2 linked regions of the Homo sapiens genome follow. The protein of the gene in region 1 purifies or fractionates together with the protein of each later gene. This does not show direct contact. Each region holds a gene or a part of one and is shown on either strand. Other genes may lie near its edges. The genes, in order: GAB3 and MIPEP.

Region 1 (3,822 bases):
TTAGTCACTTTGCAAACATCACAGGGTGTACTTACACAAACCTAGCTTACTACACACCTAGGCTATATGTTATAGCCTGTTGCTTCTGGGCTACAAACCTGTACAGTATGGTACTATATTGAATACTGTAGGCAATTGTAACACAATGGTAGGTATTTGTGTATCTAAACATAGAAAAGGTACAATAAAAATATGGTATTAAATCTTTTGGGATTCAGATGTCTCGGAGGATTGAAAAAAAATCTTATAGGACCACCATTGTATATTTGGTTCATTGTTACTATTATGTCATGCAGCATATGACTATTTATGAAAGCAAAAATTCTTTCATATATGGCCAGTGGTAGCCTCTTCAGGTTAGCCCCTAAGTCCTTTTGACATGGCCCTCGTCATTCCTTGTGGCATTGTTTCACTGTAAAAAGCTTCACTTTAGTGCTGGCAGACTGACTGCTTTCAGGGGCTTTGTCACATGTCTTCCATTTTCCAGAAGCCTGTAAGCCTGGTGGAACAGAACTATATGTGGCCTCTGGTTTTACCTACTTAGCAAAGAGCTCCAAGAACACCTCACTTCTGTTTTTGCATAATCAAAACTCTTATGTAGAGATTTAAAAACCTAAGGGATGACACACTGGCGATTTTGCATGATTCAGCATCAAGACTATGCTACGTCCTATTTAAGTTACTGTGTGACTGTTCTTTTTCCTTTCCACCCTCATGCCTGCCTTCCAGCCCTGCTGAACTACTTACGCAAAGTTTTGAGCCTTTCCACCTTAATGCCTTTGTGCACGCTGCTTCCTCCTGCCCCACTTTAGCCTTAGCTTAGTCACCACTTCTTCCTGGAAGCCTCCCCAGACAACTGATCTGAGAGAGATGTCTCTTTTGTTTGTTCCCATAGCATCTTGGTTTTGCCTTATCGTAGCACTTATCTCACTGATTGCAATCGTCTGTTTATCCATCTGCTCACTCCCTTGTTGCCCATGAGACTGTGAGTGGCAGGGCATGTGGCTTGCTCACTTCATCTTCCCCAGTATCTGCACAGTGTCCAGCATATTAGTGGGCTATCAACAGGTAATTGTTGAATGAATGGATAAAGCCCAAACTTCTTCATGTCACTCTTCCCATTGCACTCCCACCACTCCTGGTTCATTCTTCTGCTAGACCGCTCACTACGCTGAGTTGAAATCTACCCATATCATAATTCTACCCTTCTCCCTATCCCAGCTAGAGAGTGAGGTCTTTTAGGGACCAGCTCTAATCCCCTTTTCTAGCTTCATTGTCTAGCAGGATGCACAGTGCAGAGTAGGCACTCAAATAAACTCTTGGTGTTACTTCTCTTCCAATATTGTTATTAAAAGATAAGAAATCTATTGTCTCCATAACACTAAGAGCGGTTAATGTGAAACTTGTTTCTGTGCTTAGTTTGACTTCCTCTTTTAGAATCATTTTTGGGAAGTGCAACAAAGTTCCTCTTTACATTTCCCCCACCAAAGTGGCTTTTGGAAAGTTTGGAGCACCCCATGCTCCCTCCCCATGAAAGCTTTCCTCAGCAGGCACAAATGGCATTCTCTCATCCCCTGAGCCCCTTCCCTGGACTAGGCCTTATGTTCCTGTTTGCCTCAGTTGATGCCAGAAGCCCAGGTTTCCCACTTTCAAACCCCACAGCAAAACTTGAGCTCCTTCTCTTATGTTTAGTGGCTCTACTCCCATCCAGTGCCACGTTTTTGCAACAGGAATTTACTGAATCAATTTTTCTCTCCCTCTTGGGTCACCCCCACGAGCATACAAACATGCTGTTATTTTTCCTGTCTTAAAAACATGGACTTAATCACACCACGTTGTTTGTCTCCTGAGATGGTCTCCTTGTTTGACTCATGGCCAGACCTCTTTTCAAAGCTTTATACTGTCTGTAAAGGCAGGAGCAAACCAGGGTTCACCTGCCCCAACCTGACATGGAGTGACTGCCTTCCTTCTGCTTGCTGCCCCTTGCCTCAGTCCTGGAAGGGCTTTTTATTCTAAGGCATAATTGGAGGTCAGTGCTTCTTTGGATTCTCTGCCATCTCAGATTCATGTTCTCTGAGCAGGGAGGGAGCTGAGAATACTCCAAATAGTGTCTTTTCCTTTTTCCCTGGCCTCTTGGTCAAAGCTGGTGGGCTTAAAAAGTATCACACATAAATGAAGCTAGAGATACAAAAGACTTCCTGTCCCAGGGGTCGCTGTACCTCCTGGCAGAACCCCACACTTCCTGCTGTCACACATGCTACCGCATGGGAGAGAAAAACCACAGAGCTATAAATCTCCCTGCGGTCAGCCGTCATCCTTCTCTGTGCTCAATTCCCAACTGGGGCTAATGCCATAGTTCCCTACCGCAGAAAGTAAGGATACGCTATCCATGCAGGCTGGCCTATCTGGCCCTTCGATGAACAAAGGGCACCTAAATGTAAGACAAGGAACTCAAACATTTCCTTCCCCCTGGCTCCATGAGAGGGCAGGGAGGTTTACAGATCCAGGGGACTCCCTAGGGCTTTGGTCAATTGTAAATACCTCTTTCCCCAGGCCAGAGATCTGCACCCTTTCTTTGTACTGAGCCAAGATGGTACTGTCTACATCAAAAATTCTAAGTCAATGGTGAGTGGGAAGCCAAGGAGCCCTAGGTCATTCTCAGTTGTTCTCAGGGCACAAAAAGAGACCTGTCAAATCTTGGCACTGGTTTCTGTGGAATATCATTCTCTTTTCTTTTCTGAGCATGGACTGAGCTTTACCTGTTCATCTGACTTCCAGGCTTGGCTCTTTCCAAGATTCCTATTCCATTAAGGAAAATTCCTTTTTGTTTTTACAGTGTTTCAAAACAGGGGCACTGATAGCTTTAGGCCAATCCTGCCATGCCCCACCCCCCACTCCATCTCCAGCCTTTATAACAAGCAAAACCCACATATTTTCAGATGCTCCCGAGAGGAATTATACCATCCCTGGTTGAAAAACACTGTGACTTAGGGGGTGAATGCTTAAGAGTCTCCCATCTTTAAAAAATCCCTTGACCCCAGAGCTTTCCCCCTTTACAGTCAGATGTTTCTGGAGAGCTGGCTACACTTCCTCTCTCTCTTTATTTTTTAACTTCACATCCATTACCGATCCTTCCATCCCAACCTGAGTTCAAATTCATTCCTACAGTTGTTTAGCTATGTGACCTTGAGCACATTACTTAATCTCTCTGAACCTCAATTTTATCAGACATAAGATGGAGATAGTAATAGTTACCCCTCCCATAGTATAGTTTTAGGGATTAAATGGGTTACAGTAAAGCGCTTAGACAAGGGTCTCTTACATAGGAAGTGTAACTAGCCAAGCTAGTTAATTCTCTGAGAATTCTATTAGTGTTTTAATCATCATTGGGGGTTTTATGGAAGACAATTTGTCACCTTCAGACACTGGCAATCTTCTCTCCTCCTCTCCAATGTGTATGATTTTCCTTCTTGGCCAGTTGTGTAGAACTTAAATAGCAATGTTGGAAGATACTGGGGCAGTGGTGAGCATTTGTGATTTTCATCTGATTTTAATGTATGATATTGGCTCTTGAACTGAGATACATAATAGTAAGAAAGCTTCCTTCTAGTTCTTTATTGCTAAGATTCTTTTAAAGCTTCAGCATATGTTAAATTTGTACTACATTCCTTTGCTGCATCAATTTCAATGATTGTATAATTCTGGCCCTTCAAACTGTGGGTGTGAATCCCATTACTAGACTCTCCAATCCTGACCCGTCCTTAAAATCATCCAATAAAGCGGACTTGAAGATGGGCACTAGTCCTGTAATACAAAGCGTTT
Region 2 (3,822 bases), on another chromosome or scaffold:
GAAAAATTTAAAATATTCATGCCTCATATAAAGTGGGCCTTCACAGGAGAAAGATGATTGCTAGGTTTGAAGTTATTATCAAAGAAGTTAAATAAATCAGAACACGGACGTAAATTAATATCTGATGCAAATATAAGCCCCTACAACATGGGATGGGGGTTGGAGAGAAAAAAGGTCACTTATCCAATGGATTTGGGAATTAACCAAAACGGACACACAGCTATGAAGGTATATACAAAGTAAAGGACAATTTTCCTATAAATAGAATTTGTGGATATATGAAGGTGCATATATATTCAACCTTCTATCAAGTTCCAAAAAACTTTTTTAGAAAACTCTGCTGTTTTATGTTTGGATCCTTTATACAGTGTCTTAAATCAGAAGTGCAATTTGGATTTTTTTTGTGAAGCAGAAATAAGGCAGGGGACACACTCAGTCAGGGCAAAGTTGATGTAAACCTGAAACTGCTGTTGACTCAACTGCCCAACCGAAAGGTAAATGCCTGCAACTGCAGGCTGAGCAGGAGGAGCTCACCAGTTTTCGGACATCTTCGCTCCACACCTCTCCTTTTGCAGGCTGCTCTGCATATAATGAAATCCCCAACAGTCTGTTAAGCAAAATATTCAGGCCTTCCATGCATGCTCCAAGAGAGAAAAACGGGCAATATAGGCTGGGCTCAATATTATACCTAAGAGAAGGAAGAGAGGTTCAACAGCATCTTTGTTTATTTCAATTTCTGAAGGTAAATTCAATTAACTTTTCATTTAATACTTAAGATCACTGGAGCTAAAGAAGGATTCAAAACATAAAAGTGTATTTATATCATTTGAGGGGTTTTCAGACAGTTTTCTTCAGAATGACAGTCTGATTATTACTAGTGTTAGTTATAAGTCAGTAATTAAGGTAGATATATCATTCCCTAACCTTTGTCCCTTCCCTGTTATTTACTCTTTCACTAACCCAATTAAGCAGTCTCAACTGCTCACTGTATACATTCCTTATACATACTTACATGCAAAATATGATCAGTTTCAGTTATAATGGTAACTCTTACCTTATGAATTATATTCTAGAAACTTGTGACCTATATACATAAATATTAAATGAATAAAAATCCTGAGGCACATTAAGTGAATTTAAAGTTCTCATCCAGTAAAATATTCATTTATGAAAAAAATGCCTGCAATATAAATAATCAGATCTTATCTGTTTTATAGTTAGATATCTTAAATTAAAGACAACGTAACTAGTAAGGTGAATTATTCTTCACCCAAAAATAACTTTTTCTGTTCTATATATTCCAATATAAACCAAAGCAAATCCAAAATACGTGATTTGAATGTTTACATTTGAATCATTAAGTCAAGCCAAAATATATAGCCATAGCCAAAAATAATGGCTCTAGAATATTGTAGGTTCTCATTATATGTCTACTTTTTAGGATTACCAAAATACACATTTTTTTTTCAATTGGCTTTATTTGTGATTCTAGAACTGCACAACACTTCGTTCCATAAAATGAGTCCCCACAACAAATTTATATATAAAAATATAAAAACATAGTTACTAATAAATGAATGAGTTTAGTAAGTGAACATAAATTGCACAACAAATGAGACTTTGGCTATGGACATCCACAAATTTACACCTTAATTTCTGACTGATTTTTCTTTAAACAGAATCCTAGTGTTGAAAGAGACGTTCATGATCCAGTGCCCTCGCTCCCTGGTTCGTTCACTCAAGCATGCTGTCAGCAAACCTGCGGGGTGCTGGAAGAGAAGAATGAAGAGCCTTTGTGTCTAAGCAGCTGGCACTGAAAGAGGCAGAGAAGTGAACCAACTACACTGTGTCCTGGGCCTGGTGCAGTGGGCACACGGCTGGCGCTCAACAGACAGTGCTGAAGCATGAACGAATGAGCACTGCAAAATGGGAGGGCAAAGGAGAGCATGATGACTTTACTTGTGGAGTGCAGAGTAGCACCAGGGAAAGCTTCTCGGATAGGAATCAAGAAAGAATCGGCCGGGTGCTGTGGCTCACGCCTATAATCCCAGCACTTTGGGAGGCTGAGGTGGGTGGATCATGAGGTCAGGAGTTCAAGACCAGTTTGGCCAACATGGTGAAACCCCGTCTCTACTAAAAGTACAAAAATTAGCCGGGTGTGGTGGCGGGTGCCTGTAATCCCAGCTACTCGGGAGGCTGAGGCAGAGAATTGCTTGAACCCAGGAGGCGGAGGTTGAGTGAGCCACGATTGTGCCACTGCACTCCAGCCTGGGCGACAGAGCAAGACTCTCCATCTCAAAAAAAAAAAAAAAAAAAAAAGGAATCAGACTTTGCAAGGCAGGGCTGGGATGAGGAATGGAAAATGGGAATCATAATAGGAATTCTAGGCAGAAGCGACAGTATAACTAAAGTATGATGGCATAAAATAGCCTGGTAACTTCTAGAAAGGATGTGGTTAAAGATGAAGCAGTTACCAATGCAGGGATAAATGTAGAAAGAATGGGAGCGGAGTCTGGAAAAGGCAGGCAGGGGCCAGAAAACAGAGGGCCTGGTCCACTAAGCTGAGGAACTGGGACCATGCACCATAGGCCATGGCCTCTAAGCTTCCTCACCAATGCACACTAAAATAACTTTTGAGTATTCAACCTTCTATTAGTACACTCATAAAGTATATGCATGTGGTATTGTTTTATCACATTGCAAAAAGAAAAGCAGACATTTTTATAAGTTGAGATAAAGAAAAATAAATATACATAGAATTTCTAATATTTTATGACTACACTCTCAATGAATTGCTTACAGATGCCATTTGGGAGACAGCTTCTGTAGGCCATAGGGGAGCATCTGATGTTTTCTGGAATGCTGCACAGTGGACAGCATGGAGGGTGGAATGCAGGAGGCAGGGAGGGCTGACAGGAGGACAGACTTCCAGGCTTCAGAGGGTGAACTCTGACAGAGGGCAGTGGGGTCAGGGATGAATGTGTTTTTCCTTTGAGATGCAAACGTCTCAGGACTGTGTGAGTGATTGGATTTGGAGGGTGATGAGAAAGACAGAACAATCTAGAATAACACTCAGGTTTCTGGCTTGGACAAATAAGTGGATGGTAGAGTCACTGAATCAGCCGGCACAATGAACACAAAAAAGGAAGAGGGGAATCTGGGTGTGTTTGTGGGAGAAGAGAGGAGGGTGAGGTGCAATGATGGGAGGAGGATGGAGGGCTCACAGAAAATAAACTCCATTTTGGAGGAACCGACTGTGAAGTGCCCATGAGATACCAGACACTCAGGACCCAAAGCTAAGGAGAACAAGGAGACTTCACTGTACAGATATTAGAGCCATAGAGGGAGACAGGGCCATTAGGGAAGGGCGATGCGGGCAGAGAAGGTAAAGGGCAGACCCCTGAACTACCAGAGGGAGGGGTGGGAAGGAAGACACAGAACAGTTCAGAGGTACTGAAGAACTGAGAGAAAGGAGTGCATGGAAAGAGGGGAGAAAATAAACTATAAAAGGAAGTGGTCCAGGCTTGAGGTTTCCACTCCTGCACATGAGGAGGTTGAAAGTCACCACTCCATCCTAACAAGCAGGAAGCTGAACAAGCTGAAAATCAAGAATCTTCTTAGATTCAGCAGAGAATCAAGGCCACAGAGCAAACTGCTGCCCCCAAAACTGGAAAGAAAGGCAGGCAGCCATAGAGAATCACAGCTTACCAGAGCAGAAACCTCCCATAGAACCTACTACCAAGGCAAGAAAGTTTAAACTATAATTGGTTATAAAAAGCAATTCATTTTTTTGTTTCCAGACAATAAAAACACAAAAATAAA

What was found.
Region 2: the proteins of GAB3 (region 1) and MIPEP purify together in Homo sapiens (affinity purification with mass spectrometry; one large-scale study listed by BioGRID and IntAct). This does not show direct contact.

Annotation. Positions count from the first base shown.
Region 1 is NC_000023.11:154,716,452-154,720,273, reverse strand, and holds part of GAB3 (GRB2-associated-binding protein 3), read left to right. Parts: intron 1-3,822.
Region 2 is NC_000013.11:23,840,801-23,844,622, forward strand, and holds part of MIPEP (mitochondrial intermediate peptidase), read right to left. Parts: intron 689-3,822; coding exon 535-688; intron 1-534. UniProt on the Homo sapiens protein: Cleaves proteins, imported into the mitochondrion, to their mature size.